Homo sapiens: one gene and its partners. The protein of the gene in region 2 purifies or fractionates together with the protein of the main gene of each other region. This does not show direct contact. Each region holds a gene or a part of one and is shown on either strand. Other genes may lie near its edges.

Region 1 (6,097 bases), about 25 Mb from region 2:
AAAGAGCAGAGGACTCCAAACACAATCATGTGAAAAATTCACACGGGTTATGTTTTTCTTGACTGTTGTTTAAACCAGGAGTCAGCCGGGCGCAGTGGCTTACGCCTGTAATCCCAGCACTCTGAGAGGCTGAGGCACGAGGATTGCTTGAGTCCAGGAGTTCAAGACCAGCCTGGGCAACATAGTGAGACCTCCAGCTCTAAATTTTTTTTTAAGCTTAAAAATTAAAAAATAAAAACAAACCAAAAGTTAGCAAACTACGGTCATGTGGCTGGCTGCCTGTTTTTGTAAATAAAGTTTTACTGGCATATGGCCATGCCTGTTCATTTACATATTGTCCACGCCTGCTTTCTCACTATGACAGCAGAGTTGAGTAGTTGTGACAGAGTCTGTGTGGCCTACAAAGCCAAAATATTTACGATCTGGCCCTTTCCAGGAAGTTTTCCAGCCCCTGGTTTAAAAGAGTACAAATTACCTCTGGTTTTCTCTCTGGAAAGGTTTGGCGATGGTTCTTGCTGGTTACCCGTCTGGGTGTTTTGTGCTGTTTCCCGGAGCACAGGTGGATCTGGAGCAGAGGCAAGCACACCCCCCTCCCCATTCACAGAGTGGGCCGGTTCACTTGCTTGCCATTTGGTTACCCTTTGCTTTTTAGTCCTAGGGGCCTGGCTGCCAGACGGAGGTTTCTTCTCTGCAGGGCCTTGAAGGGTTTTGGTCTTGGTAGCAGTTTGTTTGGTCCTTTTCAATTTGCTTCTTATCTGAGTGCCGTTTGAGGCAGCCTTTTGTGTCTTCCTTTCTCCTGACACTTCCTTGATTCCATGTTTTTTCACCCTTTGGAAAAAGCTAGCGCAGAGTTCTTTAAAGTCCTCATCAGACTCATCCATCATCTGACCAGTTTTAAGGCTTTCAGGCTGGTCTTCAGAGGAGCGAGGGTCAATCCCAGGACAGGCAGACAGATGAGAAAGTGAACCCAAGTAGAAGCCTAGCTGAGCCTCATTCACACTCAGTTTCATTAGGGTTCTTCTCTACTTCTCCATTAGATACTTGGAGAGTTTGCACAATTGAACAAAAAGTACTGTTTTCCTCTCTATAATGATTGAAGTATCTTTGTTCAAATTGGGCCTGTGGTTAAACATGTTTAAAGCTTCCCTCTGTTAAAGTCCACAACTGGGCCGGGCGCGGTGGCTCACACTTGTAATCCCAGCTCTTTTGGAGGACGAGGCGGGGGGTGGATCACCTGAGGTCAGAAGTTCGAGACCAGCCTGGCCAATATGGTGAAACCTCGTTTCAACTGAAAATACAAAAAATTGGCCAGGCGTGGTAGCAGATGCCTGTAATCCCAGCTACTCGGGAGGCAGAGGCAAGAGAATCGCTTGAACCTGGGAGGCGGAGATTGCAGTGAGCCGAGATCGTGCCACTGCACTCTAACCTGGGCAACAAGAGCAAAACTCTGTCTCAAAAAATAATAATAATAAATAAATAAAGTTCACAACTGAAAGAGTGTTTTGTTGTCCAATAGATGCCTCTGAGATCGAATACATATGAACCTGGTGCTCAGATAATTCTCCAAGATCTCCATGATGATGAAACATATATGGTTCACTTAATTACACATCTGTGGAAAACCAAAAGCATGTAAGTGTAATCAGACATTGTCATTTTATGCCAGTTCTTCCAGGGAGGGACAAGGGCATGTGGGGTGAGGGAAAAGTCTTCGGAGTAACAATACTGTCAAATACTCAGTCCAGCCTGGTTAACATGGTCTAACCGTCCTATCAGACATCACAACAAAAGGACCTAGAAACCTGTCAAAGCATGTTGTTCTTCCACAGGTATTAAAATATGTGCATCTTGGGAGAGTGTTTTCTTAACTGAAATTTAGGGAGCAAACCCCATAAAAGGCAGTCACCACAGAAACAGGATGATCCCCAAATCTAGGAAAACTATCTCCTACACTGATCTAAGACCCCTGGCTGTTAAAGAGGCTCTTTCTGTAAATACTGCAACATAAGAGACAGAAAGAGACATTATATTCTCATGAACACTCAGGAGAGAAAAGGTCACTTTTACTTATCTTCTCAACCCAGCAAGGCTCTCCAAACCTGGATGACTGGAATGTCGCCTGTGTGCAAAGGCTGGGCCTCGTGAGCATGGTTGTTTACTTTGGCACACAGCTAAGTGGGGTTCAAAAATCAAAACTGAATGACCCAATGGCAGAAAGTTATTCCTTTCAAATACAATAATGCAATCTCCACTGTCCAAGGAATCTAATTAATCATTTTGTTTTCCAGAGCTGAAAATACTCCTACCTAGAATCTACTTTGTATGGCTGGCGCATTCTCTTCTGTGTCTTCCCCTTAGAGAAGTGTCCTCTAATCCTTTATGGACCGTCTCCATCCCCGTTAATCCCTATCATCGCCCACTGTTTTCACAATGGCATCTGTCATAGGTTATCATCATATGAAACAGGTAATATCTATCGAATGCTTACTGTGTGCCAAGCACTGTTCCAATTGCTTTCCAAGTCAAACTCGTTTAATCCTTACAAGAAGCCTATATGGTGGAATCTCTTGTCATCCTGTCTTTACGGCAAGGAAACACGCGCAAGCAGAATGAGGAACTGGCCTAAAGCCAGTTCAGGAACAGCTTTCACAGTGGCAGGGCTGGGATCAAACCCAGGAAGTGTGGTTCGAAACTATCCGCTCTTGTGTTTTTATTCATCGGCTTATTATCTGTCCCCCATTAAGCTCAACACTTCAGGAGGGTAGAGATCCATCTATTACTTTGCAACCTCTTTGGCTGATCTGGTGCCTGACTTGAAATAAGTGCTCCACAACTACTTGTTGAATTCATGAATTGCAAAGAGTTCGGTATAATGGGAGTAGAGAGAAAGGTGTAGGAGAAAACGCTGCGGGGAGAGGAAAGGATTGGCTCACAAGGGCCTGGAAGGTCAGGCTAGGCAAAGTGAATTTTATCCTGTTGGATGCGGGGAGCGGCTGGAACAAATTCCACCTCCACAACTGTGTTGATCTCCGCATCTCTGTTGATATGAACCTCACAACAGTCTATCTCCTCCTATAGGTGCCCAGTCAAGATTTACTGAATGACATAACGGATCCTGCAAGCCTGCAGGTTTCCAGAGGGAAGGGGACTTGTGCCTCCTTGCTTCGTACCTACCGCAGCCCACGGCTCACAGCAGGCGAGGGATGAATGAATGGATCGGTAAGGGGCGGACCCTCCCGCTTCCCCCAACCCGGCGACCTACGGAAAGGGGCTGAGGGGTTCCCCGTCTGGGAAAAGGGCTGCCAAAGACTCTAACGGCTCTAAAGTCAGACGGAGAACCCCGATCCCCGGACTGGCCCGGACGGAGACCACCGTGGGGATCCGGATCCGCCACCCTCCTCCCTCCAGGCGGGCCCCGGCCCCTCTCCACCCGAGTGCGGCTCCTGCCTCTCCGTCGGGGCTGCGGGCCTGCCGAGGCCACGGAGCCAGCGAGGGAGACGGGCGAGAAAGGCTCTTCTCCCTTAGGAAAGAGAGAACGGCCCGAAATGACAGGACCTCCGCCTCCCGGGTGCCGACTCCCAGCCCCACAGCCCGGCTCCTCCTACCTCCGGCGCCGCCGCGGCACCTTCTTAACGGAGACTCGCGCGCCTGCGCATGCGCCGCCCGCGCCCCCGCGGAGCATTGCCTGCGCGCAGGCGCAGAGCGGGCGCGCGCGGTGGTGCGGCAGCCTCGCTTCCGGTCTTCCTCTGCGGCGCCGGGCGCGGGCCCGCGGCGGCCAGCGCTTCCGGTCGGCAGGAGGCGGGGCGAGGCGGAAGCGGCGCTTGCTTCAGGTGGAGTCTGTTAGTTTTTGAGAAAGAGTTAGGGCGAGTTTAAGGCACTGTGGCAGCTGTGAGATAAAGTCTGGTTCCTCCCCAGCTGGCTCAGGAAATGTTCGCGGATACAACGGCGGCCCCCTCTGGGCATACCTGCCTGTGGAGCGGAGAGTGGACGGTGTGAGGGGGACCGGGAGAGGCACCAAATCTGGCCTGGGGGCCCGAGAAGCTTCCTCTCAGGTGGGGTGGCGTGAGAGTCGAGGCCTGGAGGTCGGGGAGGGTTAGCTACGTGAAGAGGGGATTCTGCCGCGCTTCAGGTGCCTGGAGGGGATGCCCGAGCTCTTCCGCAGGGCTAGGGTGAAGCCAGCCAGGGCCTGGGGGAAAGGTAGCAGAGGTTTGCCATGGCTTGGTATTTGAGGGACTTTACACATCGTATTAAGGGTTTGAGCTTCAACTTGGGGTCGTCGGGAGCCATTGAAGGTTTTTTGTTGTTTGTTTTTTGAGACGGGGTTTTGCTCTTGTTGCCCAGGCTGGGGTGCAGTGGCGCGATCTCGGCTCACTGCAACCTCTGTCTCCCGGGTTCGAGCGGTTCTTGTGCCTCACCTTCCCAAGTAGCTGGGATTACAGGCGCCAGTCACCACGCCCAGCTAATTTTTGTGTTTTTAGTAGAGACTAGGTTTCACTCTGTTGCCCAGGCTGGTCTCCAACTCCTGACCTCAGGTGATCCGCCCGCCTCGGCCTCCCAAAGTGGTGGGATTACAGGCGTGAGCCACCGCTCACGGCTTTTTTTTTTTTTTTTTTTAAGTAGAGACGGGCGGTGGGGGCGGGGGGGGGAGTCTCACTATGTTGCCCAGGCTGGTCTCGAGCCCTGGCCGCAAGAGATCCTCCCGCCTCGGCCTCCCAAAGCGCTGAGATTACAGGCGTGAGCCACCACGCCCGGCGTAAGATTTTGTTTTTAAAGGCCTAATTACAGTGAGAACAGATGAGGCAAGGACACCCATTAGGAGGCTATTACATAATCTAGATGAAAAGTGAGAGCGGCCCGAATTAGGAGGTGGAGCGAAAAGAATGGAGAAATATGGAGCATAGTCAAGACGCAGTTGTTAACGATTTGCCGGTTTCTGGCCTTAACATCTGAGAGTAGTGTGCCTCCAGTCACTGAAATAATGAACACAGGAGAGGTGTAAAGGAATCAGTTTGCAGGGCAGACAATATGTTTTTTAAAAGATACAGTATCATAAAATGCACACTAGAAGTGTACATTCAGTGGTTTCCAGTACGTTCACAGGATTTGCAGCCATCGTCGCTAATTCCAGAACGTTTTAAAACCCCAAATCGAACCTGCCGTACCCATTCGTAGTCACTCCGCAATTCCCCCGACCCCATCCCCTGGCAATCACTTATCGGCTTTCTGTCTCTGTGGTTTTGCGTATTCAGTACATTTTATGTAAATGGGATCATGTGATACTTGGCTTTTTCTGCTGGGCTTTTATTAAGCATGTTTTCAAGATTTCATCCATGTAGATGAATCAGTACTGCATGCCTTTTCATGGCTGCATAATCACGTGTTTGGATGGACCATGTTTTGTTTATCCATGTATCAGGTGATGGGCATATGGATGTTTTTACTTTTTGGCTGTTAGAAATAATGCTGCTATGAACATTCGTGTTCATAACACAAGTTTTTGTGTTCTAGGAGTGGAATTACTGGGTAAGACTACATTTGATTCTGAATGTTGAGCTTCAAAACCTTCCAAGAGGTTTTCCTTGATGAAGGATTTAGGAGGTGTTTACTTGCTCTCTGGCTTGGAAATCTAAGTTAGTTTGTAATATGGTTTCCAACTGGATAAAGAAGACAGAACAAGAATGATAAGCAGCCCAGAGGCAAGGGTAGGGCAGGGTGTCTTGGGACTTGAATTTATAGAGGAGACTGAGTGACGACATGGAGAGGCCAGTGCTGTTGAAATAATTTCTCTTTCCTTCCTTCCCTTCCTTGCTTCGTTTTCGACGGAGTTTGGCTCTTGTTGCCCAGGCTGGAGCGCAGTGGTGTGTGCAACCTCCACTTCCCTGGTTCAAGCGATTCTCCTGCCTCAGCCTCCGGAGTAGCTGGGATTACAGGCGCCCGCAACCGCGCCTGGCTAATTTTTTTTTTTTTTTTTTTTTTTGGACAAAATCTCGCTCTGTTGCCCAGGCTGGAATGCAGTGGTGTGATCTCGGCTCACTGCAAGCTCTGCTTCCCGGGTTCACGCCATTCTCCTGCCGCAGTCTCCCGAATACCTGGGACT
Region 2 (5,041 bases):
GGTGTAAATCCCAGGCCTGGAAGCTCCTACCCAACCCTCATTTGTTTCAACTCACTTTCAATATGTGCATAGTTTCATAAAGCAGACATTTCCATGAGGAAAAGAGGATGGTGGTGAAAGGGGAGGGGTGAAGGGACATCTCCAAGTCACAGAGGCTGCAAAACTCAGCATGACTTGTGGACGGAGCCACAGGCCACCCAGGGCAACAACACCCACATAACTCACCAAGTGGTTAACGGCTCTAAACCAGGGTCAACAGGAGAGGGGACAAAAGTCACTCCTTGATTTTGCTGCAGCTTAAAGATAAGTTCTACCTCAGCTTATGCTAGCCCTTATGGGGCAAAAAAGGGAAAGTCATTCTCCCCAAGTCCAGGCTGGGCCGTCAAACAGGGAGTGGGGTGTCAGCCCCAGACCTCAATGAGGTCCCCAGATTCCATGCCCAGGTCAGCTGGCAGCTCCCTGCCTGAAAGCTTTGTCCCATCAAAGAAGAAGGAGAGCTTCCGTCCCGACAGTCCCATGGCCTCCTCATAGTGGGACATGAGGGTCTTTAGAGGGGAATCCTGGATGGAGACAAAAGAAAATGGACGTCAGAACATGAAAGGGGGCGGGGATCCCGTAGGGATAGACGAGGAACTTGGGACAGGGAGGATGGCGGCAGGGGCGGAAACAATAAAGTCAGGGCCCCATGCGGGGAAAGGAGAGAGGACAAAGAAGCCAGCCCAGCCAGGCTCCTCTCTGGGAGCTGGGACGAATCCTGTCATCCCTCTGGGCTCCAAGTTGCTCAGGTAGAGGACGGGGGCCACGAGCCCAAGGCTTAGGGGTATAGGCTCTAAGTCAGGCAAGTCCTCCTAGCCTCAGCCTCCTTCCCTATGAAACAGAAGTGTGTACCAATGACTAAGAGAGCCCAGATTCTAGAGTGAGGATGAGTCGAGCTGGAGGCCAGGCTCTCCCACCTATTAGATATGTGACCTTAGAAAAATGTTACAGGTTATGTTCCCCAGAGAAGACACCTTGTGGTCTTAACCCCTGTTAAGTGTGAATGTGATGTGATTTGGAGACGGGGCCTTTGCAGATGCAATCAAGTTGAGGTTGTACTGGATTGGGACGAGTGCTAATGCCGTGGGACTGGTAGACAACTCACTGCAACCTCTGCCTCCTGGGTTCAAGCAATTCTCCTGCCTCAGCCTCCTGAGTAGCTGCAACTACAGGCACAGGCCACCACACCCAGCTAAGTTTTTGTATTTTTGGTAGAGACAGTTTCTCTGTTGCCCAAGCTGGTCTCAAACTTCCTGAGTTCAGATAAGCCACCCACTTTGGCCTCCCAAAGTGCTGGGATGACAGGCGTGAGCCCCCGCACCCAGCCTGGGACTGGTATGCTTATGGAACAGACACAGAAACAGACATGAGGGGAGAACACACGTGATGACAGAGGCAGAATGGAGTGCACCTGCAAGCCAAGAATGCCAAGGACTGTGGGCCGCCAGCAGGAGCCAGGAGGAGACAGGGCAGATTCCATGAAGAGACCCTGAGGGACTGCGTGATGTTGTCAAATATATATTTGGTCTTTGTATGTTTCCTGGTATAAAATTCCTAAAATCCCTGGGAAAGAGTTAAGTATCTTTTTGCATGCTAATGAGTTGACTGGTGGCTGGCAGCCCCTAGAGAGCTTCAGGAATGGTGCTGGTCACTAGAAAGACCAAGGTAGGATAAGACAGTTGGGACTTTTTCCCCACCCCTCAACCTCCAAGAAGGAGGGAGAGAGTGAAGGTTGAGTCACCACCAATAGCCCATGGTTTAATCAGTCATGCCTATATAACAAAGCTTCCATAAAAATCCAGAGGACAGGGTTTGGAGAACTTCCCAATAGTTGAACATGTGGTGATTCCTGGAGAATGGTGCCCAGGGAAGCTATGGAAGCTCTGCGCCCTTTTCCCATGCTGTGCCCTACACATCTCTTCATCTGTATCCTTTGTAACATCCTTTATAATAAACCAGTAAATGAAAGTAAGTGTCTCCCTGAGTTCTGTAAGCTGCTCTAGCAAATTAAACCCAAGGAGGGGGCGAGGTGCAGTGGCTCATGCCTGTAATCCCAACACTCTGGGAGGCAGAGGTGGGAGGATCAGTTGAGCCCAGGAGTTTGAGTCCAGCCTGGGCAACATAGTGAGACCCCGTCTACACAAAAAAAATTAAAAAATTAGCCAAGGGTAGTGGCACACACCTGTAGTCCCAACTACTCAGGAGGCTGAGGTAGAAGGATCGCTTGAGCCCAGGAGTTTGAGGCTGTGGTAAGCCAAGATCGCACCACTGCACTCCAGCCTGGGCAACAGAGCAAGACCCTGTCTTTTTTTTTTTTTTTTTTTTTTTTGAGACGAAGTCTAGCTCTGTCGCCCAGGCTGGAGTGCAGTGGCTTGATCTTGGCTCACTGCAACCTCCGCCTCCCAGGTTCAAGCGATTCTTCTGCCTCAGCCTCCTGAGTAGCTGGGACTATAGGCGCATGCCACCATGCCCGGCTAATTTTTTGTATTTTTAGTAGAGACAGGGTTTCACCATGTTGATCAGACTGGTCTTGAACTCCTGACCTCGTGATCCGCCCACCTCAGCCTCCCAAAGTGCTGGGATTACAGGCGTGAGCCACCACGTCTGGCCCTGTCTCTTTTTTGTTTTTTTCAAAAGAAAAGAAAAAAATCCTGAGTTTGTTTTCTTCCCCCATATCTTCAGAGACACTTGCTCTGCTAACACCTTGATTTCAGACTTCTACCCTCCAGAACAATGAGAGAATAAATTTATGTTGTTTTAAGCCACCCAACTTGTGGTACTTTGTTACAACAGCCAAAATACAAAAGTGGGGTGCTGCTGGAATAAATGGTTAAATGTAACAGTGGCTTTGAAATTGGATCAGGGCTGGAATAATTTTTTTTTTTTTTTTTTTTTTTTTTTTTCAGATAGGGTCTTGCTGTCTCCCAGGCTGGAGTGCAGTGGCCCAATCTCAGCTCACTGCAGCCTCAATCTCCTAGGCACAAGCGATCCTCACACCTCAGCCTCCTGGGTAGCTGGAACTATAGGCCTGCGCCAGCATGCTGGGCTAATTTTTGTATTTTTTGTAGAGGCAGGGTTTCACTATGTTGCCCGGGCTGGTCTTGAACTCCTGAGCTCAAGCAATCTGTCCATGTTGGCCTCTCAAAGTGTTAGGATTACAGATGTGAGGCACTGTGCCTGGCCAAAGCTGCAAGAATTTTGAGGTGTATGTTAGGAAAAACCTAGACTGCCTTGAAGAGACTGCTGGTAGAAATATGGACATTAAAGGGAATGTCCCTGCAGGCTCACAAAGAGGAGAGGTGCAGAGAAATCTCCTATCATCTTAACAGGATGCATATATTGTTATGAACAGAAGGCTGCTAGAAATATGAATATTAAAGGTGTTTCTGGTGAGGTCTCTGGAGGAAATGAGGAATGTGTTATTGGTAACTGGAATAAAAGTTTCCAATAAAGGTGGCGCAATCATGGCTCACTACAACCTTGATCTCCCAGGCTCAAGCAATCCTCCTGCCTCAGCCGCCTGGGGAGCTAGGATTACAGGTGCTGGGGTTACAGGTGTGAGCCACTGCACCTGGCCCAATTTCTCACTTTTGAAATGGGAATGTCTATCCTATGTCTGTCCCATCACTGTATTTTAGAAGCAAATAACTTATTTTCTAGATTTCACGGGTCCGCAGAGAGAGAGAGAGAGGAATTTTGTCCCAGAATGGACCATACCAAGTCTCATCCAAAACTGATTTAATGATTTAGAAAATAAGATTGGGACTTCTTGAGTTGATTATATTTAAATGAGATTTTGGGCTTAAGAGTTGATGCTGGGATGGGTTAAGACTTGTAGGGATATTGGAATGGGATGTATATATTTTGCAGATGGGAAGGCCATGAATTTGGTGGGGGCTAGAGAACAGTGTGTTAAGGGTTGAACTGTATTCCCCTGAAAAGGCACTTTGTGGTCCTAACCCCTAGTAAATGTGAATGTAACCTTATTTAAAGTAGGGACTTTGCAGATATAATCAAGTTGAGATGAGGTTGTGCTTGGTTAGAGTGGGGCTAGCCCAACATGACCTATGTCTTTCCAAGAAGAGAGACGAACACAGACAGAGACACATGGAGAACACCGTGTGATCACAGAGGGAGAGACTGGAGTGACACAGCTGCAAGCCAAGGAACTCTGGCCACCAGCAGAAGCTAGAAAGAGGTAAGGAAGGTTTCCACTCAGATTCTCAGACGGAACCAGGCCCTGCCAACACCTTCAATTCAGACTTCTAGGCTCCAGAAGTGTACAGGAATAGGTTTCTATTGTTTTAAGCCACCCAATTTGTGTATTTCGTTAACAGTAGACTTAAGAAATGAATGCAGCAGGCCAGGCGCGGTGGCTCACACCTGTAATCCCAACACTTTGGGAGGCCAAGGTGGGTGGCTCACTTGAGGTCAGGAGTTTGAGACCAGCCTGGCCAACATGGTGAAACCCTGTCTCTACTAAAAATGCAAAAATTAGCCCAGCACGTGCACCTGTAATCCCAGCTACACGGGAGGCTGAGGAAAGAGAATCACTTGAAACTCGGAAGGCAGAGGCTGCAGTGAGCCAAGATCATGCCAGACTTCAGCCTGGGCGACAGGGCGAGACTCTATCTCAAAAAAAAAAAAAAAAAAAAAATGACTGCACCAAGTTGCTTATTCCACCTCTCTAGAACTCAATCTTCTTATTGCCAAATGAGGATAACAACAGTGCTTTGTGGCCCACATCAGATTGTTGTGAAATTAAATAAGATCCTGAATGTGAGGAAATTATCCTCAGCACGGGGACTAGCACTTAGCCGTGTGGCCTTCATTGTTATTTTGATGGGTTTTATTGATTACCGTCTAAGGGTCCTTTCTGTTTTAATCAGAAGGAGTCAGGAGACCGAGGGAGCACCCAGACTAGGGCAGAGGGTACCAGTAGAAGCGGGGAGGGAAGTTGAACGATGGGTTTTCCCACTACCTAGGATGGCTGGGAACCCAAGAA
Region 3 (5,299 bases), on a different chromosome or scaffold from region 2:
GTTAACTCTTACATTAGATCTGTGATCTATTTGTGGTTAATATTTGTATATGATGTGAGGGAGGGATAGAACTTTATACTTTTGCATGTGGATATCAAGTTGCCCTAGCTTCTTTTGTTAAAATAATGTTCTTTCTTCATTGAATTCCCTTGTCCGAGATGAAGTGACCGTCAATAGAAGAACTCACTCATTCCATTGATCTGTATGTCTGTCCTGCCAGTACCATACGATCTTGATTACTGTAGTTTTGTAGCTGGTTTTTAAATAGGGGCATATGAGTCCTCTAACTTTATTATTTCTGAAGATGTTTTTGGGTATTCTCAGTCCCTTGCATTTCCATATTGAATTTTAGGACTAGATTGCCAGTTTCTGCCAAAAAAGCAACTGCAATTTTGATAAGGTGTTTCACGGTTTTGCAGGTATCTTTTAATGTCTTAACAGCTGGATTCTCATCTCTGCTCCTGAATTCATTCCCTTAACGTTATTTTAATGAAGTAAGGAGTACTTGAATAGTTTTTCAGGTAGTTGAATATTCTTTGATACCGAAACTTCATAAGTGATAGTTTGCAAAGAATAGTTACACTATGCAATCTGAAATCATATTGATGAATTTGCCCAACTCCGCAGGTCTGCTTTATACTTGGAATGGATCTTCTACCATGCCTGGTTTTGTAGCGTTACTGGTCATTTGGAAAATATTTGTTCATCGTTACGCAGATCTTCCACATGTTGACACATTTTATTATACAAGCATTTTTAAAAATCACATTTGTTAATATCACCACCAATCTCTGCAAAGTCTTAAGTTTTAGAACACTGTTCGCTATGAGTGGTGCAAGTTTTCCAAAATTCTAATTTCCTCCTTGAGTTCAAATAATTTCCTTGGCAACATGCTACCAGTTTTTACTTGAATTGACTGTTTTGTTTCTTTAATTTCCAAGAAAATGTCTGCCAGCTATTCACATTTGCAATAATGATAGTTTGTCATCATTCTTGCAAGTAAAAAAGGCATTCCATGATAAAAGTGGCCAGTTCAGATCACTTCTCAAATGACTGCACAAGTGCTTTTTTTGGAAACAACCATCATACTTCAGTATGTAACAGAGGTGCTTTATGTGTACATCTCATTTTGTCGTGCAGAATATTAAAAAGACAGGTACCAAAGGGTCAAGATTTAATATAATTTTACTGCTTTTTCAAGGACACTGTTAAGTAGAAACAGCTCTTTTCCCACTGTGAATGCATGGTAGTAAAGAATACAGTGACTTACCACTCAGTTTGTAACTACTGTTTTTGATTCATGCCAAGGGGTGCCGAGCTAGCAGTTTTCCCTACCATTGCTTTTGCACCCTTAGTACAAATGGGAACTTTGTGGAAAAGGCAAATGATAACTTAATATTGCTATGAATATCGTTTTGACCTCATGAGACCCCTGAAAAGATTTTGGTAAACCCCTTAGAGGTCCACAGACCACCCTTTGAGAACCATTAAACTGTTGTAAGCTAGGATCTTGTTCACTGCTGTGCAAAATCGAATTGACAGTGACTGCATCCTAAATGCTGTTCACAGCGATATGGTTCCCACAGTGTTAGAAGAGCCTCCTAGGAGAGGCCCTGTAGCGTTGTGAGAGACAAAGATGGCAAGGCAGGAAAGAACTTGGCGTGGTTAGAATGGAAGGAAGCACGAGGGAGGCCAGAGAACATCAGGAGAGTTATGATATCTGTGTGCCTATTGGTTTGGCCTCTGATTGTGTTGCATTTTTGGATGAGTTGTGTTTGGACCTGGTGATGGCGAGGCTCCCAGAGAGTAGTGAAAATTGCAAAGAGTAGCAGGATACCAGAGACCCATATACTAATAATATAGTTTTTAAATACGAGTATCAGGATGAAGGTGGGGAGGAGTACACAAGTAAAAATAGCAACTTTATCACAGAATGAGACACTGCCACCTCTACCTGTGATTGTGGAAGGTCAGAGATGCACAATGCTTTTCTTGGGTGAAGATTCAGAATAACAAGTTCGCAAACAACTGTAATAGTGTCCATGGCTGGATTGTTCTTAGTTACTTGAATAAATCAGAACTGAACTTGCACATGATTGTGCAAGTGAGAGTATTATGAAATCTTTAGGGATCATACTTGAAGGAACCTTCATTCTTAGTTCTAATTTATTCTGAAGTACCAAATGAAATCTTAACATTGATACAGTACTCACGGTCTATCTTCGTCACGTCATTCTTGCTAACTGTGAGAATGCAAACTGCTGAGTCCTTTTAACATGAATTGCTGGATTGATTTTTAAATATAATCAGCTGTGCGCAGTGGCTCTCGCCTATAATTCCAGCACTTTGGGAGGCCAAGGCGAGTGGATCACCTGAGGTCAGGAGTTCGAGACCAGCCTGGCCAACCTGGCGAAACCCTGTCTCTACTAAAAATACAAAAATTAGCTGGGCGTGGTGGTGGGCGCCTGTAATCCCAGCTACTAGGGAGGCTGAGGCCTGCAGGAGAATCACTTGAACCCGAAGGGGGAGGTTGCAGTGAGTCGAGATCGCGCCACTGGGCGACAGAGCAAGACTCCATCTCAAAAAAAAAAAAAGAAATCTAACATTTTAAAGGTTCTGGAATACTATTTTAGTATTTTAATTTTCTTCAATATATGTTGGGCTTCTGGTTATTAAAAAAAAAAAAGGAGTTCCTGTAGGATTGGAGCTTTAAATCTAAACTGGTATTAGTTTAGAACAGGAAGTGCTAGAAAAGCCTTTACGTTGTGCTCTTATGGGCAAGTTAAGAAAGCAGGGCAGTTTAAAGATAGTGATAGAATTCACTCCGAAGTGTCATGCTTGCTTGGTTTGCGTCTTATCTGTAGTAGAATTGAGTCTTTCTCTCCCGCATTTCTCTTTTTGTTGTGCTTACATGTTTGCAGAAGGACTCCTCATGGACATTTGAAAGAGAAGTTGGTGTTTTAGCAAGATACACCATCCCACCTTTTGCAGGATTGAGAGTTGAATGTTAATAACTACCTGATGGCATAGTACATAATTTGTGAATGGGGATGCAAATATGGGCTTTTACAGTTAATACAGTTTTATGAGATGAAATGCTTTTCTAAGACTTCTGTGTCTTAGATATAAATGTGTCTGCCTATTTTGCTAGCTTTATTTTTTTTTTTATTTTTTATTTTTTGAGACGGAGTCTCACTGTGTCATCCAGGCTGCAGTGCAATGTCGCGATCTCGGCACACTGCAGCTTCAACCTTCCAGCCTCAAGGATCCTCCCGCCTCAGCCTCCCGAGCAGCTGGGACTATGGGTGTGTGCCACCATGCCCTGGCTATTTTTTTATTTTTTTGTAGACATGAGGTCTTACTTGTTGCCTCGACTGGTCTCGAAGTCCTGGACTCAAGCGATCCAGCCACCTCAGCCTCCCAGAGTTCTGGGATCACAGGCTGAGCCACTGCACCTGTATTTTGCTGGCTTTAAAATCTCAATCACATTTGGCATTTGTTTGAAAGAGAACATTTGGGCCAGGCCCCCAAAGATTGAATCACTGCAACTGTTGGTTGAAGAGGACAGTTTGTGAGTGTTATGTGTTATTCAAATTAGGTGTTCATTAAGCATTTGAATAAATGCTCTACTTTGTACCAGTCACAAAAGCTAGGACAGTTATAATCCTTGCCCTCAAGGAGCTTCAGTCTAGTTGAGAGCCACAGGAACTTGTTCCTGCTACTGAGAATAATAATTGTTGGTGCTTTTGAAGCATTTACTGTTATGGGGTACAATCTTAATGCACATGTATTAATAGCCTTTAAACTCGGGTAGGTGCAGTTGTTACACCTATTTTGCAGATAAGGAAACTGAAGTACAAAAAGTTTATGTGACTTGCCCAATGTCAAACTGTTGTTAAGTGACAAAGCCAGGATTTTGAACTCAGGCAGTGGCTCCAGAGCAGGCAGTCTTTAATCAGCTACTACACGATTGTTACTTAAATACAGTTGGGATAGGTGTTTGAGAGAAATAATCAAAGGCAGGGCTAACTTGATCATCAAGTGGGGATGGGGGTGGTGGGAGAATTGTCTTTAAAGGAAAGGCAGTGTGGCTCACTGAGTGAATGAGAAGGGTGAGGTGTGAGTAATGAGAGAGGTCGGGACTCATGTGTTTGCCAACTGTCCTTCAAGAACAGTTTTGTCTGCTCTGTGAAAAGTTTTAGACTTTTTCCTAGAAACTGTGGGAAGTGACTGAAGGGTTTTAAGCAACAAATAAGACGATGATCTATACCAGGGACTGGCAGACTTGTTCTGTAAAAGGCCAGATAGTAAATATCTCAAGCTTTGCAGGGCAGGCCATGTAGCCTCTCTTGCAGCTATTCTACTTTGCCTTTGTAGGACGGAAGCAGCCACAGACAATACATCAACGAGTGGGTGTGGCTGTGTGCTAGTAAAACTTTATTTATGGATATAACACTTGAACTTCATCTGATTTTCAGTATCATGAAATACTGTTTCTTTTTCCAACCACTTAAAGATGAAAAAAACATTTTTAGCTCATAGACTGTACAAAACCAAAACAGGCTGTAGGCCAAATTTGGCCCCTGGTCTGTAGTGTGCTGATCCTGGCTTCCATCCTCCTGCTGTTCTGTGAAGTGGGAGGGGTGGTAAGGGAGTAGAAATGGGAAGACCAGCCAAGGCGCAGAGTAGATGAGATGAAGAGGACGCACATGGGAGATTTCCTTAGAGGGAGAATGGGCAAGACCAATGTGGAAGCTGTGAAGTAGCCTTCAGATTTCTCATGTGAGTGCCTGAGTAGGTCATGTTGCCATTGGCTAAAATCAGAAATGATGGAACAGGAGCAAGTTTAAGGGGTGGACCAGATTTATTTATGCACCTGCCAGATCCACACACTTTCCTTGCTTTCTGGCCACAGAGGCCCTAGCGACCACCCACACAGGGCACAGTTCCCATGGTCCCGAAGACAGGTGGCTGTGCCTACAAGTAGGGTTCTGAGGGTTTGCTGGCCCTGGGTCCTTGTGTCACCCAAGGATTTGACCAAGCATACCCTCACACCGCAGGATTGTTGCCCCAGAGACAAATGAGGTTGCTGGGCCCGGGTGGCCCCACACGCTCACGTTGCCCACTCAGGCAGGCAGTGTCTTACTACAAGGATGTTTGTCATTCCTGCTTGCTGGGAGGGGGAGTTGGACTCTTTCTCTAGATCTTTTCATTCTGCATAAGAGTGCTACAAAAATGTGTGAATATGTTTTATAATAATAAATTGCTTTCTTAATCTAACCATGTTTCTGTATGAGCA
Region 4 (5,299 bases), on a different chromosome or scaffold from region 2:
AGACTTCATTTGTTCCTCCATACACACAGTATAGTTCAGCCCCATACTGCTGAACCACATTGGTTATATATGCTCACTGTGATACACTGAGGCTCTGCAGGCTACAGTTTTGAGATACAGGTGACAACTTGCTTTCTTGGAGAGCTGAGCTTCTGTCCTTATCTTTTGAACTCAAGTTCTCTTCTCAGTTTTCACTGTATTTGCAGTTCTGTACCCAAAACACCATATATGATTTCTGTTGGTCACTGCTGTTGTAGTCTTTTCCTCCTTGACCACTGGTCCTATCATAGCTATTTGTGTGCTCTACTATACCCTTCCCTCTTATATTCTCTGTTTCCTCTTTTTTCTTCATTATCCTGTTAACTTTTTCCAAACTTTCCATTTTATGTAAAAATGCTCTCTCCCCTTACATACCTTGGCAGGCAATAAAAGCACTCCTTTCTTTTTGCATGTTGAACTGATCAGACTGTTGGATGTAATGTTCAGGTGCGTTGCCACTTCTCCATTCTGCTCTGTGTTGCCAGGGGAATATGGATTCTTTTTTGTTTTTTACCACTAAACTTTTTGTTTGTTCTGTATATTACAATAGTATAAGGGTAGACTTTGTTCCAGGGTATAATCATATCTGAAATCTAATGTGGCATTTGCCAGTGAGTTTTAACTATGGAATATCATGTGGCACAAGAATGGTTTTTACTTCAATAGGATCATGGTAGCAGAAATGTGGAGAGGACCGTGTGTCATTCTGGCTATGATTTTATATTGTTTACTCTTGAAATAACTCTAAAGATTGATATGTGTATATACAGCCTTAGTAATTAATTTTTCTCATCAGTTTACTCTTAGTTTATCTCTTGATTTATAGGTTCCAAGGAATCCTGATATCCCAAATCCAGCTCTGGCTCAAAGAGAAGAGCAAAAAAAGATTGATGGAGCTGAACCTCTTACACCAGAAGAGACTGAAGAAAAGGAAAAACTTCTCACACAAGTAAAATATTTTCAATGGCTGTAATACTTACAGTCAATCAATAGAAAAAAAGAAAATATAGATCACACTTTTTATTGTATGGGCCTAGTATCCTAGTGTGACACACCAACAAAACTCAGGGCTATTTTGTAAACATGTTTAGACCAAATCTCCTTATTTTTAAAAATTGATCTTATAGAATATGCCCTTTTGGAAATAGTGGATAGTATGTATATGCAAAATATAAGTGTCAAGTATTAGCAATTTGACATACATTTTGCCAATTATAATAAGGTCAGTGAATCCACATTTGAATTCTGATAGACAGTAGTTATTAACATATTCTTTTTTGTTTTTTGAGACAGTCTCGCTCTGTCACCCAGGCCGGAGTGCAGTGGTGCGATCTGAGCTCACTGTATCCTCCACCTCCCAGGTTCAAGTGATTCTCCTGCCCAAGCCTCCCGAGTAGCTGGGATTACAGGCACCCACCACCGTGCCTGGCTAATTTTTGTGTTTTTAGTAGAGATGGGGTTTTGCCATGTTGGCCAGGCTGGTCTCAAACTCCTGACCTCAAGTGATCCACCCACCTCGGCCTCCCAAAGTGCAACTGATACTACAGGTGTGAGTCACCGTGCCAAGCCTGTTATTAACATATTCTTGAAAATTTAAATTTCTTTTGTTTATAGATGTGAATTGTCTCCTGAAGTTATATTCTACTAATTTTTTATTAATGGAATAATTTCATAATTTTCAAAATTCTTTTTATCTTTTTTTATAATTTTCATACAATGATGAGAGATTTCTGAAGCTTTTATTATTATTATTATTATTTAAGGTGATCATTGTATAACAATTATTAAATTAGGAAGGTTTCCATTTGAACAAAATATTAATGCTTTTAAGTCATTATTGCTATCATGAGTTTTACGAGTGTTCTACTTCTAAAATAAACTATAGAAGATAAAAATTTCAGCATAGAAGGCTTGCAAAATAAACAAAATGTGTACCGTAGGACATTACTTTAGTATAGAGGGTTGCCAGCAAGATTTATTTATTCAACAAATTTTGAACAATGTGCGATGCATAGTAGTAGGTAATTCTCCACGTTAATTATTGAAAGATAGTTTTTATATTTGTATATTATTTATTATATAGGTTTTTTTTGCTATAACGTAATTTTATTGTATGGATTTTCACAAATTACATTCATAAGTTTTTGAGCCAAATGCCTGGAAGTAATAAAGTTTAGTTTGAAAATATAATGGCAGATGGCTGAATATTAGAACTTACCACAGAATAAAATAAAACATTTAAATATTCATGTTCTATTTTCAAAATGTATTTCCTGAATGTAAAAGTAAAGTTATGGCTTTAGAATGCTACATGACTTGGAGTATATTGTGAATGTACGGTATAACATGAATATACAGTCTCAACTGAGATAATATTTTAGTTTGTAATTAGAAATATAATCAGTTTTCTGCTTCTCCTAGTATATGAATTCATTTTTGTCCTTCTCTGCTGCCTTAAATAATTAATCTTTTTCAAAAAACCATGGCAGTACGTAGGAACAAAATGTGGGGTCATCTGAAATCTTTATCAACTAAAAGCCAGGGATAGAGTTTTGCAGTGTCTGGAGTATCACATTTATGTGAGTTGGGGCTCGAGGAGTGGAAGACAAATTCTTGGTCTTGTGACTTCACAGACATGCTAATAATGCCAAGGGAATTTAAAACACTGGCTAAAGTGTTTTATGTTTTAGTAAAGAAATTGAGTGGCTCCAATAACGTTCTGCTTGTAGAAGTTCTATTTATGAACATAATTTAGAACAGAAATTATTTATTCACACTAGTTCAGAATGATGTAAAGAGCTACAATTTTTTTTTGCATTATCTTTTGGTTATTCCTCAGTGTTCTTTTGATTTAGTGCATCCACATTTCTCTCTTTTAATTTATGTAGGAACAGATCTGTGAAAAAAATCATTGAAGTACTAGAATATCACGACTTCAGCATTTATATTAGCATTTTTATTTTCATGCATTTGTATTTTAATGTAGGCATCTATAAAATATGAAATTAAAAACTACAGATCTTCGAACTATGTATCAACATTCTCTTTGTAATAGAAAAGCAGTTATTTCTATAACAACTCTCACTCAACTTTTGATTCCAACATAAAATATGTGCAATTTTATAAGGAGAAACATTTTAAGTCTTTTAAAGTGTTTTTTAATGTATCATTGTATAGAAGTAAATAGGGCAATAAATGGATTTATTAATTTAACCTCTATTGATAATGCTTAACTTTTTGTTCACAGGGTTTCACAAACTGGACTAAACGAGATTTTAACCAGTTTATTAAAGCTAATGAGAAATATGGAAGAGATGACATTGATAACATAGCTCGAGAGGTAGAGGGCAAATCCCCTGAGGAGGTCATGGAGTATTCAGGTTTGTATATAATTTGAAACATGGTGTTGTATTTTAACGTTATTCATTTATTTAGCATCAATTTAATTGTACCTTTGTTCAGAGATGTTTTAAACTTTTATGAATAAGACATAGATGAGAGTATAAACTATAATTGTATTTCTATGAAAAGGTTATAAGAAAGGTTATAAGATTTATCCTAACAAACTGACTGCTATTGTCTCTATCACCTAGCTAAAAGAGGCAAATAAAGCTCTGATAAAACAAGGGTGGCTCTTGGATAAGCATTGACAAAATTAGTTTCCCACCTTCCCACCTCTGGAATTTGGTCTTCTGGTTCAGTTCTGAGATTCACATTCAGTGGATTGAATTCGTGCCTTTCTTTCTAGGTCGTCCTTAAAGTAGAGAGTTCCTGTCAGGCCCATTTAGATGCTCAAACACCCTCAGAGTTCCACCCTATTCCAGAGAGTTCCTGTGGGTCCCATTAACTTGGGGCTAGCGGGCGTAGAGCTGAAAAGATTGCTTTAATCAATCTGTTAACTGGTCCTCAAATCCTCTCCCTCTCTTACTCACCTGTGTTGTTGAGCTCGACCAGAATCAGTTTAGCTGCTGAAGCATATGGATTTTTTTTACACTTACTGGTTTATTATAAAGGGTATTGTAAAGGATACAGATGAAGCGTGTAGGGCAAAGTATGGGCCAAGAGGGCGCAGCGCTTTGGTGCCCTCCCTGGGCGAAACCTCTTCGTGTTTAGCTATCCAGAAATCTTATTAAAAATAGGTAAATATGTCTAGCAAGTTTTCTATATGTAGTACATGGGACTTTTCTAACTTCCAAATAGGTTCAGCTCTTAAACTTATCATTTGAAACAAGATGTTTAGAATCTAGAGCATTTTTTGTCATTGAAACAATGGCAAAGTAGGTTTAAGTTTACAAAGTAGGTTTAAGTTTCTATGATAGCCCCTGCCCCAAATCTATTTAACCCTACCACTGAAATTCTGTTTTTGCAATAGTAGGAAAGAAACATTACAGTACCAATAAATATACTAAAGATTAATAATAGCTAGGAACAGCTTTTAATTTATCTAGCATGCTAGTGCTTGAAGAAATCCAGATTTAATTAGAGAGATTTTTTTTTCTTCTGGAAATCTAAAAGAGTCTTCTGGGGGACTTCAGAGGTCAGTTGTATTGAGTTTTTATTACATATAATATAACATTAAGTATATGAACTTCCTTTTCCTTCATACCAGCATGATATTACTATTACTCTGAACATTTAGCACATAAATTTAGGGCATTTGGAGGCTTAGGGGAAAAAATAGATTGAAGAGAGAAATTTTAGCATCAAGAGTTGAATGAAAAGAATGTAAAAGGGTATGTGCAGAGAGATTTTTAAGAAGAATTTTTTTCAGAAGATAGGCAGGGAGATAACATCGGTGTATGTGAAGTTGCAAGAAAAAAATGTGATTTAAAAAGATGATCCTGTCAGACTTTCTTTCAAATTTGACACCAAGCCAGGTGGCATGACTAGCTCAGGACTATTTAATTGCTGCCTGCCAGGTTGGGGGCCATGTCACAGGGTGAGGAGATTGCAATGAGTTTGTTGTAGTTGGTTACAGTAAGAGAAGAAATGTGTACAATTGACCACCCATGAATATACAGTATCCTGTACATAGCAAGTGTTTAAATATTTGTTGAATGAATATGTGAGTGAATGAGTAAATGAACACAGGTGCTTATAAAAATCAGAGTGCTCACATACCTTTCTTGATAGGCTCTAAAAATGAAAAGCTTGAGGATGTGGAGTATGTCATTAAAAGGCCTTTCATTGAAGTCATGTGACATATTAATACAGCCAGATTATTTGGCTCATCTATAAAATTTGGTTGAGTGACTTGGAA
Region 5 (4,096 bases), on a different chromosome or scaffold from region 2:
ACTGCTTGAGATAATGAAGGGTACAGCGCTTAGTGCCATGTCTGGTAAATATTATATTAAAACTTGATTGCTCCATGACGCCTGCCATTTTTTTTTTTTTTTTGAGACGAAGCCTCACTCTGTCGCGCCCAGGCTAGTGTGCAATGGCACTCTCTCAGCTCACTGCAACCTCCGCCTCCTGGGTTCAAGTGATTCTCCCGCCTCAGCCTCCCGAGTAGCTGGTGCCTGCCACCACGCCTGGCTAATTTTTGTATTTTTAGTAGAGACGAGGTTTCATCATGTTGGCAAGGCTGGTCTTGAACTCCTGACCTCAAGTGATCCACCGGCCTTGGCCTCCCAAAGTGCTGGGATTACAGGCGTGAGCCACCGCGCCCGGCCGATGCCTGCCATTCTTTCCCACTCAATGCCACTGTGCTTAGGACAAGGCACCTGCTAAGGAGTGGGGTGTGCGGGGTTGGGGGTGGGAGTGATCTTGGCAGGTCTAGCTGGGAAGAAAATCCTTATCAACAAATGTCACCCAGCATAGGACATTGGGGAGCTGATCACTGGCTGCTGGTCAAAGGGCGCTCCAGTCCTGGGGAAGGCCTAGGTTTGAATCCATCCACAGAGCTCAGTTAAGGCTGCTGATTAGATATGGCGGCTCAGGTCATGTCCCCAGCCAATATGGGAGGCGGCAAGGTTCATCCAGATGAAGGTGGCATTTAGATTTAGGCTCTGTCCTTTCCCGATAGGGTGACCTTGGGCTAGTCACTTTTCCTCTGTGTCCTCTGGAAATGGGGCTCCTCATTCACCTCTCAGAGCGTCTGAGGAAGTGTCGACACAATGGGTGTGAAATGCGTGGGTTACAGGCCGGCGGGTGGCATTGGTTACGCGAAGTCCCCGCGGGGGGTCCCTATCCAACGGGTTCCATTCCGGTTAAGCGGTTCCTTCTCCAGGGGTTTTTCGCCTCGCCGCTGCCTCTCCGCCCCTGCGAGCGGGGCTCAGCGAACAGCCGACTCCGGGGCCATTACCATTGTTCTTCGAGGCTGGGCCGCAGGGGAGGACTCTCGCAAGCCAGACCTCGCCTTTGGTCTTTCCCTCCGCCCCGCACCCGCGCCGCTGTAAGCCAGCGAAGCCTCCCTCGCCGATCTTTGCCGAGGAAGCGAGTTAGCCCCTGAGCCCTCCCGAACGGCGGCCGAGGACGCACCCGAGCGTCTCCGAAGAATCCCGACCCCTAGCAGTCTCCGGAAAGAGCCGAAGAGGCTTCCCACCCTCGGTTTCCCGAGCCATTCCGAAAAAGTCCGAAGTTTTCCGAGCAGCCGTCCTGCCGGACTGCTGGAGGCGGCCACAGCGCCATGTTGGATGCTCTGCTCGTTGAGTGAAGAAAATCCACCGGCATCGCCTGAGCCCCGCTACCGAGAAGGGCGCCGCTTCCTCCGGGGAGGGGGATAAAGATCCCCCGCCGCCGGCCCATGAGGATATTGCCGTGAAAGGTCCGGTCTCTCCGCCTCCTGCCCCCGCCGGGTCCGGCCCCCCCCCTGGGGTCGCGTTGTCACGGAGACCGGCAGCCGGTGGTGCTGGCCCGCGGGGCGGCTGCTGCTGCCGGCGGCGGCGGCGGCGGAGGCGGCGGCGGCGGCGGCGGCGGCGTCGGGCGTGTGTGACCGGCCCCGGCCCCCTCCTCCTCCTCCCCCCAGGCTCCCCCCAGCCCCCCGCTCCCGCCGCCTCCCCGGGTCTGCCCCCATCCCGCCCCCCCGCTGCCCCCGGCCCCTGCACCCCGGCGCGCCCGGTCCCGCTCTGGGGGGGTTGGTGGCTTCGCTTTGCCATGAGTTTACCGCAGAAACCGGCTCTGAAATCAGGCACAGCGACTGCAGCAGGAACCGGACCCGGCACCGGAGCGGCGGCGGCGGCGGCAGCAGCGGTACCGCCTCCTCACCCGGCGGCGGCAGCAGCGGCGGCGGCGGCGGCGGCGGCGGCGGCGGCGGCAGCGGTCCCCCCTCCTCACCCGAACATCAGGGCCCTCCAGACTCAGGCGCCCCAACAGTATCCTTTTCACCTTCCTGTCGGCCCTTCGGTTCTCGTCGTCGCAGTCCAGGGGGACCCCGCAGCCCAGGGGACCCTCCTGCCGGCCGCCACAGCCCAGCCAGGAAAGGGACAGCGGCTCAAGCCCCTGCATCGGGCTTGGGCGGAGCTTTTGGGGTGCCCCGGCAGCAGCACTGCGGGGGGACCCCCAGACCCTCTGCAATACTGTGAAAGCTAGCCCCACTTGGCCATGCTTCTGCAGCCCCTTCCTTTTAGAGCTTGGGGTCCCTTCTCCCCTCCTCCCCTAAGGTACCCTCCCCCCCTTTATTGGGCAGAATTTGCTTGGTGCCTGGGACCAACCCTGCAGGGAAGGCTTTTCTCTGGTTGTTGTGAGGATTACACCCTCCTGCTCTTCACCTCCCCTCGGCTCCCCCTACAGCGGGACACAGTGGGCTTCCATAATTATTATTAGTACATAATAAACTTTATCGGTAAATTTCTTGTTTGAAACCAATCAGCTCGTTTCCGAGGTATGTTGGATTTTCAGTCTAAGGTGAAAATGTACAGAAAGCAGTTCCTCTGGATAATTTTTTTTAGTAATGGGAGAGTTGTGATGTGGTTTGTGGTAGAGATCTGAGGAGGAAATGTGACGCCGGACGCTTCCCTGTCTTTGACCTTTTTAAAGGAAGAGGAAGTTCACCGACATTACCCATCACCCACAAAAGTCTCACTTCTTGGAAGATTTGTGTTAGGCTGAATATTTTTAATGGGCTTTAATTTACTCCTCATAGGCCTGATGTCTAGAGAGTTACCAGGGCTTCTGGAGGAAAGTCTAGTATTGAATGTTTCTAATTTCATGTTATTTGCTCGATTGTAGAATTTTGGAGAGCTTTGATTGAAAAGACTTGGTGATGGGGTATTTTAGTCAAAAACTAGCCGGTGAAGGTAAAACGTTGAATTCATGTATTCCACGGAGATTTAGAAAGGTATTGCGTACCTGAGAATAACATTTCATCATGCATCACCTCCTCCCTACACCCACTGTATTTGTGTAAATCAATAAATAATGATTGGATGTTAGATGTGTTGTGTTTTTATGTTTGTGTCATCGTGCGTTTGACTTTTAGAGATTGTAGGATGTTTGAGCAAGTAAGAAGCTAACTGCTGTGAGGTCCCCAGATTATTTCACAGTCTGTAGTTTGATTCTTGTCTGTATAGATTACTTTGAGAAGGGAAAGCAATCTCCCTTCTAGAGTCATTTCAGGTCATTGTTTGTTTTCTGCCAAGTGTCATTTTCTCTGTTCTTTAAACCTAGTTCGTGATTTTCAATCCAGGCACCGCGGTGCAGTGTAAAGATAAATTCCATTCCAGTGTGACGTGTGTACTGATTTCATAATGTTTTTATCCTGCATGATTCTGTTCAATTAGGAATTGTTCACCGATGAGAAAGTGTGGTGATAACTTAGCGTTGCTTATGGAAAACCTGGTTGGTTTTGTTCAGTGTCTCTGGGGTGGGGGAAGATTGGCTGGTTTGCCTACTTAAAGGCAGAGTTCAGTGTTGAATCTTTTAAACCTGTCTTTGCTTACTACTTTGTGAGTTTAAATTCCTTTCTAATTTCATTTTTTACCTTGATTGCCTATACTCGGTTAGGACTTTTAAGTTTCTGAATTGTGCTACCACGTAAATTACTCATTACCTGCATCTTTGAGCTGTTTTGGCAATTGAACAGAAATAAAAGGAAACCTGTAGTAGGTGTCCTTGATGTACAGAGTAGTAAGGACCACAGTGCTGAATGTGACACTGTTTGGTGAATTGGGTGGCTTTTTGGGATACAGCTGTGTTTCAAGTATGCTTTTTCTCAGTGCATTTCATAGAAGGACTTATAAAAGCTCTGAGTTGGTTGCAACATTCAAGTAGTTACAAAAGCTGAAACTTAATTTTCTTTTGAATAAAAAGCACTTGTTAAAGAGATAAATTTAAGTGTAAGTTCCAGTGTAGATAATTTTAAACCAATTTTAGTCATATGGAACACTTACTTTTGTGTGGCTTTAAGTTTTTACTTTGCCTCATGCCATTGAAGCTAAAATTAATCTTCCT
Region 6 (5,299 bases), on a different chromosome or scaffold from region 2:
TCTTAATCAACATGTATGTGACCAAGCATCCCTGGCTGCTACAGAATAGCAGATGGGTATAGTTAAGAAACAACTTTAATTTGAGCAGGGGGAATGACAATACAGCACTTAACAGCTATATTGTAGTCTGAATCCTGCTTGAAAAAGAGGGTCTCTGAAGTTCAACGTTATATAAGATGAGGAAAGGAGGAAGGGAGGCTGGGTACGGTGGCTCACCTTTGTAATCCCAGCACTTTGGGAGGCCAAGGCGGGTGGATCACTTGAGGTCAGGAGTTTAAGACCAGCCTGGCCAACTTGGTGAAATCCCACCTCTACTAAAAATACAAAAAAAAAAAAAAAATTAGCTGGGCATATTGGCGGGCACCTGTAATCCCAACTACTCGGCAGGCTGAGGCATGAGAATTGCTTAAACCTGGGAGGTGGAAGTTGCGGTAAGCTGAGATCAAGCCACTGCACTTCACCTGGGTGACAGAGCGAGACCCTGTCTCAAGAAAAAAAAAAAAAGATGAGGAAGCGAATACGATTGGACCCTGTGTTATCCCCTGTACGTACCTGGGTGGCTTGTATGTTGATAACTTCATAGGATAACTCTTCTGGCCTGGTTAGCGCTGCTTGTCTGGATGAGATGGTAAAGAAAATGGGTGCAACATTAGGGTTCTTTCCCTGCCAGCATGGCAAACTGGCTCTTGATCAGTTGGCAACCTATTTTTTCTGCCTCATCTGCCATTTCTCTTAAACTTTCTACCCCATCTCCCACCAATGTACCCTACGACCTAGAAAGTCAAGTTCTTTTATCTCTCTGTGACTTTGCACATTATAAGCCCTGCCAAGAATGTTTCTTCCCTTCCTCTGCTTGGCAAACTCCAAGACCTAGATCAAATGCCAGCTCCTTCAATCTGCCAGTGCAAAGTCAGTCACTGTCCTCAATTAGCGCATTCATGACACAGCACTGAAATAACTTATATCTGTACACGTTCACTCTCCCACTAAGCTGAGAGCTTCCTGAGGACAGGCTCTAGGTCTTACATCTTTGCATTCCCAGGACTTTACATAGTACCTGTCACACAGAATTAAACAAAAGAAGTTATTAATAGTTCAATGAAAGGTGACACTCACGCCAAATACTTGGTTTTGAGGAGGATCACATGAGATAATGCATGCAAAAGTGCTCTGTAAACTGTAAAGCACTATAAATCACCGTGGGTGATTTACTATTGCTGTTGGTTTTGGGTTATACTGTCTAATACAGGGAAATCAAGCTCCAACCTCACTCTGGTTTCTTAACACACTGTCTTAATCTGGTCATCCTGGCTTCTAACACTGCTTATTCAGCTGTTCTCTGATAAGTAAAACATTATAACTCTTTTTTTGTTTTGTTTATTATCATTTTTTAGAGACAGGGTGTTGCTCTCTCTCCTAGGCTGGAATGCAGTGGCATGATCACAGCTTGCTTAACCTTAAATTCCTGGGCTCAGACGATCCTTCTGCCTCAACCTCGTGGGTAGCTGGGACTACAGGTGCGCACCATCACACCGTCTCTTTTTTTTTTTTTTTTGAGACAGAGTCTTGCTGTGTCTCCCAGACTGGAGTGCAATGGTGCAGTCTTGGCTCACTGCAACCTCTGCCTCCCGGGTTCAAGTGATTTTCCTGCCTCAGCCTCCCGAGTAGCTGGGACTACAGGTGCGTGCCACCACACCCAGCTAATTTTTTTTTTTTTTTTGTAGAGACGGGGTTTCACCATGTTAGCCAGGATGGCCTCGACCTCCTGACCTTGTGATCCGCCTGCCTTGGCCTCCCAAAGTGCTGGGACTACGGGCGTGAGCCACTGCACCCGGCCCCATCTCTTTTTTTGAATGACTCTGGAAGATTCAGGCCATTTCATCCTGGTGGGCTATTTAGATTATTAAATTTGTTGGTATTTTATTTGTGATATTTACACAAATATTTATAAGTGCCACTGGTTTGTAATAGTCATTTTGTGTTCTTGTCATGCTTGGGATTTTTATATGTCTTTAACGAAACAGGTTTAAAACATACTCCTCTTCTTCATCGGTGGTAAAGAGATTCAACCGGAATCCGGGCTCAGGGCCACTGGGTTTCTTAATCTCCATCCCTCCCATCAGCCTGGCCAAGAAATTCAGCTCTTCTTTAGCAAGAGGGTTTGGAGCAATGCTTTCCTGCAGAAACAGTTGCATGATTTTTAGCCACATGAAGGCAATCACATTTCCTGCTAAAACCTCAGAGACACAGGTAGGTATTATAAAATAAGGTAGAACAATTGCTATTTAAATTATTTCTGGGTCCAAATAAAGTGTAGAAAGCAGCCTTAACCAAAAGAAAAACAATCACGTCAGTAGCAGAGGGAATGTAGCAACTTTGCAAACCAGAGATTTTCATACTTTCCGCAAGAGTGGAAGCCCCAGGGATCCACGTTTCTCCTCTCACTACCTTCCTCCTTGAAGAAGTGTATGGCTTCCTTTCCTGTCAATCGGTTTCCCTCAGCATTTACAAGTCGCCTCAGTCCAGTCTCCTTCCAGAGGCGCTGCCACACTGCCCTCAGGTGGTGACGGCCGGGAACACACCCTCGAGTCCATTCCCTCCTCTCACAGTCCTCATCCTGCCTCATCCTGTACCCCTCTTCCTTGTAGCCTGGCCTCCCCTGTTCTGCCTCTCCCCTCACTCCACCACCAGTTACCTAAATGCAGTTTTTGTCTCATTTCTCCCTGGCTTGAAACAAAGCCCTCTGCCTCCTGTCGAAAGAACAAAGCCCAAATTGTTTACCACCCTTCCTGGTCAGGCCCCAGGGTCCTGTCCAGGCGAGTCTCTGCCAGCAAGCCTCCATGATACTGTGATCCGTTACGTAAGCCTCGTGGGAGACACCGCCATCCTCCTCCCGGGAACACTCTTGCCCCTCTGTCACCTTGGTCCGTGTGCCCATTTCTCCCTCTCTGCTGTTTCATAGTTTACCTACTCTAGAGCCCCACTTCAATATCCCCGCCTCTGAAATGCCTTCTTGATCCCTGTGATCCCTGTCCACTGGACAGACATGAATTCCTCTGGCACAGCACTTTGTGCAGGATCCCCAGCCAGCCCTTCCTCCACCTCATTTGAGTTGTTTCTTTCACCGTCTTTCCCAGGGTACCACAGGCCCCTTCAAGATGGGACCACATCTACGTCAGCTTCGTGTCCCTGGGTCCCCAGCCCATAGAAGCAGTTTAATAAATGTTTGCTGAATAATTTAATATTCTGTGATCTCTCCTACAGCTAGCTGGGAGCTAGTTCAGCGAAAACTTCTAAGGATGGAATTCAGAGAAACTAAAACCCCCCACTCTGACTTAGCTACCACGGTGCTATAGAGGGAAACATTAAAAAGAAATGTTTTAATGATCAGAATACACACGAGTGCTGATGTCAGCAATCACGGACCTAATGGCACTGGTACTACGCTACTGCATATGTCCTGGTGTGTGGTTCCTCTTAATTATGGTGGCCGAGCCAAGCCTAAAATTACCTAATTAGTGAGATCACTGGAAGTCTCCATGAAAAGCTACAATTAAAACCTGTGTACTCGTAAGGTGGAATGGAGAAGATTGCACACAACAGGGGAAATGTTGGCTAGATCCGAAATCTAAAGCGTTCTCACCTCTCTTTATGTAGACTTCCGTATCTAGAGAGAAGCTGTGAGGGTAGGCAAGGAAGGCAGAAGCTCACCTGGGTCCATGAGGCTAAGTTCTTTGATGATCCAGACACATGAGTTTCCACAGGCTGATTCACGCTGTACCTGGTGTGTCAACAGAAAATGGTGACATTATCCAGCCCCTTTCCACGGACTTCTCTCTAACTCGTAAGCATAGTTTGTAGCTTTTATTCTGAGACATTAAATAGCATCCAGAAAGGTGCTGTGGGTACAGAATGCAACTGAGTGTGTGTTAACCATTCACATTTCACTTCTTCCTAAAGAAAAACACCTGGGGAGGCTGGGTGGCAATGCCTCCTCTTGTGAAGAGTAACACGCATCACTGAAAATATATGCAGCTTTACAGAACGGATAAGTCTTTCTGGATTTCCACTGCAACACAGATTTTGGCTAGTTCTCTTGCATGGCTATTGAACATCATGTATCTTTTCATTCTGTTGAGTTGCCTTATGTTTGGCGTTCCTGGGTGCCCTTTGAAATGTCAGGCCTCTGTATGCAGTGTACCTAAGGGGAAATTACTCCTATTGTCGGCAGGGATTTTCATAGCAGAAGTCTGGCTGTTTCTCTTTTTTTTTTTTTAAATGAAGTGACCTCCCTTGGACTTGAATTCACTCAGAGAAGAATTTGCTTACATGTTAGTTCCCAGTTTCAGGACTCGGTCTCCATAAAGTTCAAAAGAACCTTCTTTGGGTGCAGGGACATAGTTTCCACCATGCTTGAATTCTATCCTCTTCACTTCTTCACCTTTGTTGTTGAACATTCTACAATACAAAGTATGACATGATGGAATGTTCTCCAAGCTTAGGTAGTCCTGGAGGCTTCTTTATTCTTTGTACTACAGAACAAAAAAGGAATACATGCTCTCCTTCAAGATAAAGGTGCTGGTTGTAATAATAATAATAATAATACAATAATAATATTTATTGAGCATATGTATGTGCCAATTGCTTTGTAAGCACGTTAGAGCACTATTATCTTATTCATCCACACAGTAACCATTTAACAGATGAGGAAATTAGTCCTGGGGAACTGGGTAACTTGCCTCAAGTCCCTCTACTAAGTGACAAGGTGGGGATTAGAACCTGACTTTTTCAATAGCTGTTTTACTGAAGAAAGAGAAGGGCTGGGCAGACTGTGAGTGGCTTGGCAGTGCGGCATTCCGTGTGCGGCCCATGTGCTGATTTCCTAGCACCCCAAACATAGCTCTGATCATTGTTGGGAATTCACCTGATGAGTCCTGGAACTTCAGTTCCCCAAGGAACAGGCCCGGACACCGGCAACACAAAGCGACCGTTATTATTCTGAACTTTGTCCTTTAGAAACATGGATACCTGGAAAAAAATACATTTATTGTCATTTTTCTTGGTATATTTTCATAGACATCAATATTCTGAGGGTGGAAAGTGCGTAATGGTTTGGGAACATGACCTATGAGTTTATAACAATAAGAAGGGAGAGGCTGGGCGCAGTGGATCATGCCTGTAATCCCAGCACTTTGAGAGGCTGAGGCAGGCGGATCATGAGGTCAGGAGATAGAGACTATCCTGGCTAACACGGTGAAACCCTGTCTCTACTAAAAATACAAAAAATTAGCCGGGCGTG

Evidence for each region.
Region 1: the proteins of NFATC2IP (region 2) and SLX4 purify together in Homo sapiens (affinity purification with western blotting, with the first as the bait; one study listed by BioGRID). This does not show direct contact.
Region 3: the proteins of NFATC2IP (region 2) and RHEB purify together in Homo sapiens (affinity purification with mass spectrometry; 2 studies listed by BioGRID and IntAct, with this or other methods). This does not show direct contact.
Region 4: the proteins of NFATC2IP (region 2) and SMARCA1 purify together in Homo sapiens (affinity purification with mass spectrometry; one large-scale study listed by BioGRID and IntAct). This does not show direct contact.
Region 5: the proteins of NFATC2IP (region 2) and EIF4G3 purify together in Homo sapiens (affinity purification with mass spectrometry; 2 studies listed by BioGRID and IntAct, with this or other methods). This does not show direct contact.
Region 6: the proteins of NFATC2IP (region 2) and OSCP1 purify together in Homo sapiens (affinity purification with mass spectrometry; one large-scale study listed by BioGRID and IntAct). This does not show direct contact.

What each region holds. Positions count from the first base shown.
Region 1 is NC_000016.10:3,607,955-3,614,051, forward strand, and holds the start of SLX4 (structure-specific endonuclease subunit SLX4), read right to left. Parts: upstream 3,653-6,097; 5' UTR 3,606-3,652; exon of another isoform or gene 3,175-3,605; intron 1,613-3,174; 5' UTR 1,011-1,612; coding exon 476-1,010; intron 1-475. UniProt on the Homo sapiens protein: Regulatory subunit that interacts with and increases the activity of different structure-specific endonucleases.
Region 2 is NC_000016.10:28,959,224-28,964,264, reverse strand, and holds part of NFATC2IP (NFATC2-interacting protein), read right to left. Parts: intron 561-5,041; coding exon 402-560; 3' UTR 1-401. UniProt on the Homo sapiens protein: In T-helper 2 (Th2) cells, regulates the magnitude of NFAT-driven transcription of a specific subset of cytokine genes, including IL3, IL4, IL5 and IL13, but not IL2.
Region 3 is NC_000007.14:151,508,960-151,514,258, reverse strand, and holds part of RHEB (GTP-binding protein Rheb), read left to right. Parts: intron 1-5,299. UniProt on the Homo sapiens protein: Small GTPase that acts as an allosteric activator of the canonical mTORC1 complex, an evolutionarily conserved central nutrient sensor that stimulates anabolic reactions and macromolecule biosynthesis to promote cellular biomass generation and growth.
Region 4 is NC_000023.11:129,466,893-129,472,191, reverse strand, and holds part of SMARCA1 (SWI/SNF-related matrix-associated actin-dependent regulator of chromatin subfamily A member 1), read left to right. Parts: intron 1-865; coding exon 866-988; intron 989-3,286; coding exon 3,287-3,419; intron 3,420-5,299.
Region 5 is NC_000001.11:21,174,098-21,178,193, reverse strand, and holds the start of EIF4G3 (eukaryotic translation initiation factor 4 gamma 3), read left to right. Parts: upstream 1-1,296; 5' UTR 1,297-1,472; intron 1,473-1,780; exon of another isoform or gene 1,781-1,801; coding exon of another isoform or gene 1,802-2,019; intron 2,020-4,096. UniProt on the Homo sapiens protein: Component of the protein complex eIF4F, which is involved in the recognition of the mRNA cap, ATP-dependent unwinding of 5'-terminal secondary structure and recruitment of mRNA to the ribosome. Functional homolog of EIF4G1.
Region 6 is NC_000001.11:36,418,439-36,423,737, forward strand, and holds part of OSCP1 (protein OSCP1), read right to left. Parts: intron 5,029-5,299; coding exon 4,925-5,028; intron 4,533-4,924; coding exon of another isoform or gene 4,499-4,532; exon of another isoform or gene 4,459-4,498; coding exon 4,330-4,458; intron 3,782-4,329; coding exon 3,712-3,781; intron 2,178-3,711; coding exon 2,038-2,177; intron 617-2,037; coding exon 553-616; intron 141-552; exon of another isoform or gene 10-140; intron 1-9. UniProt on the Homo sapiens protein: May be involved in drug clearance in the placenta.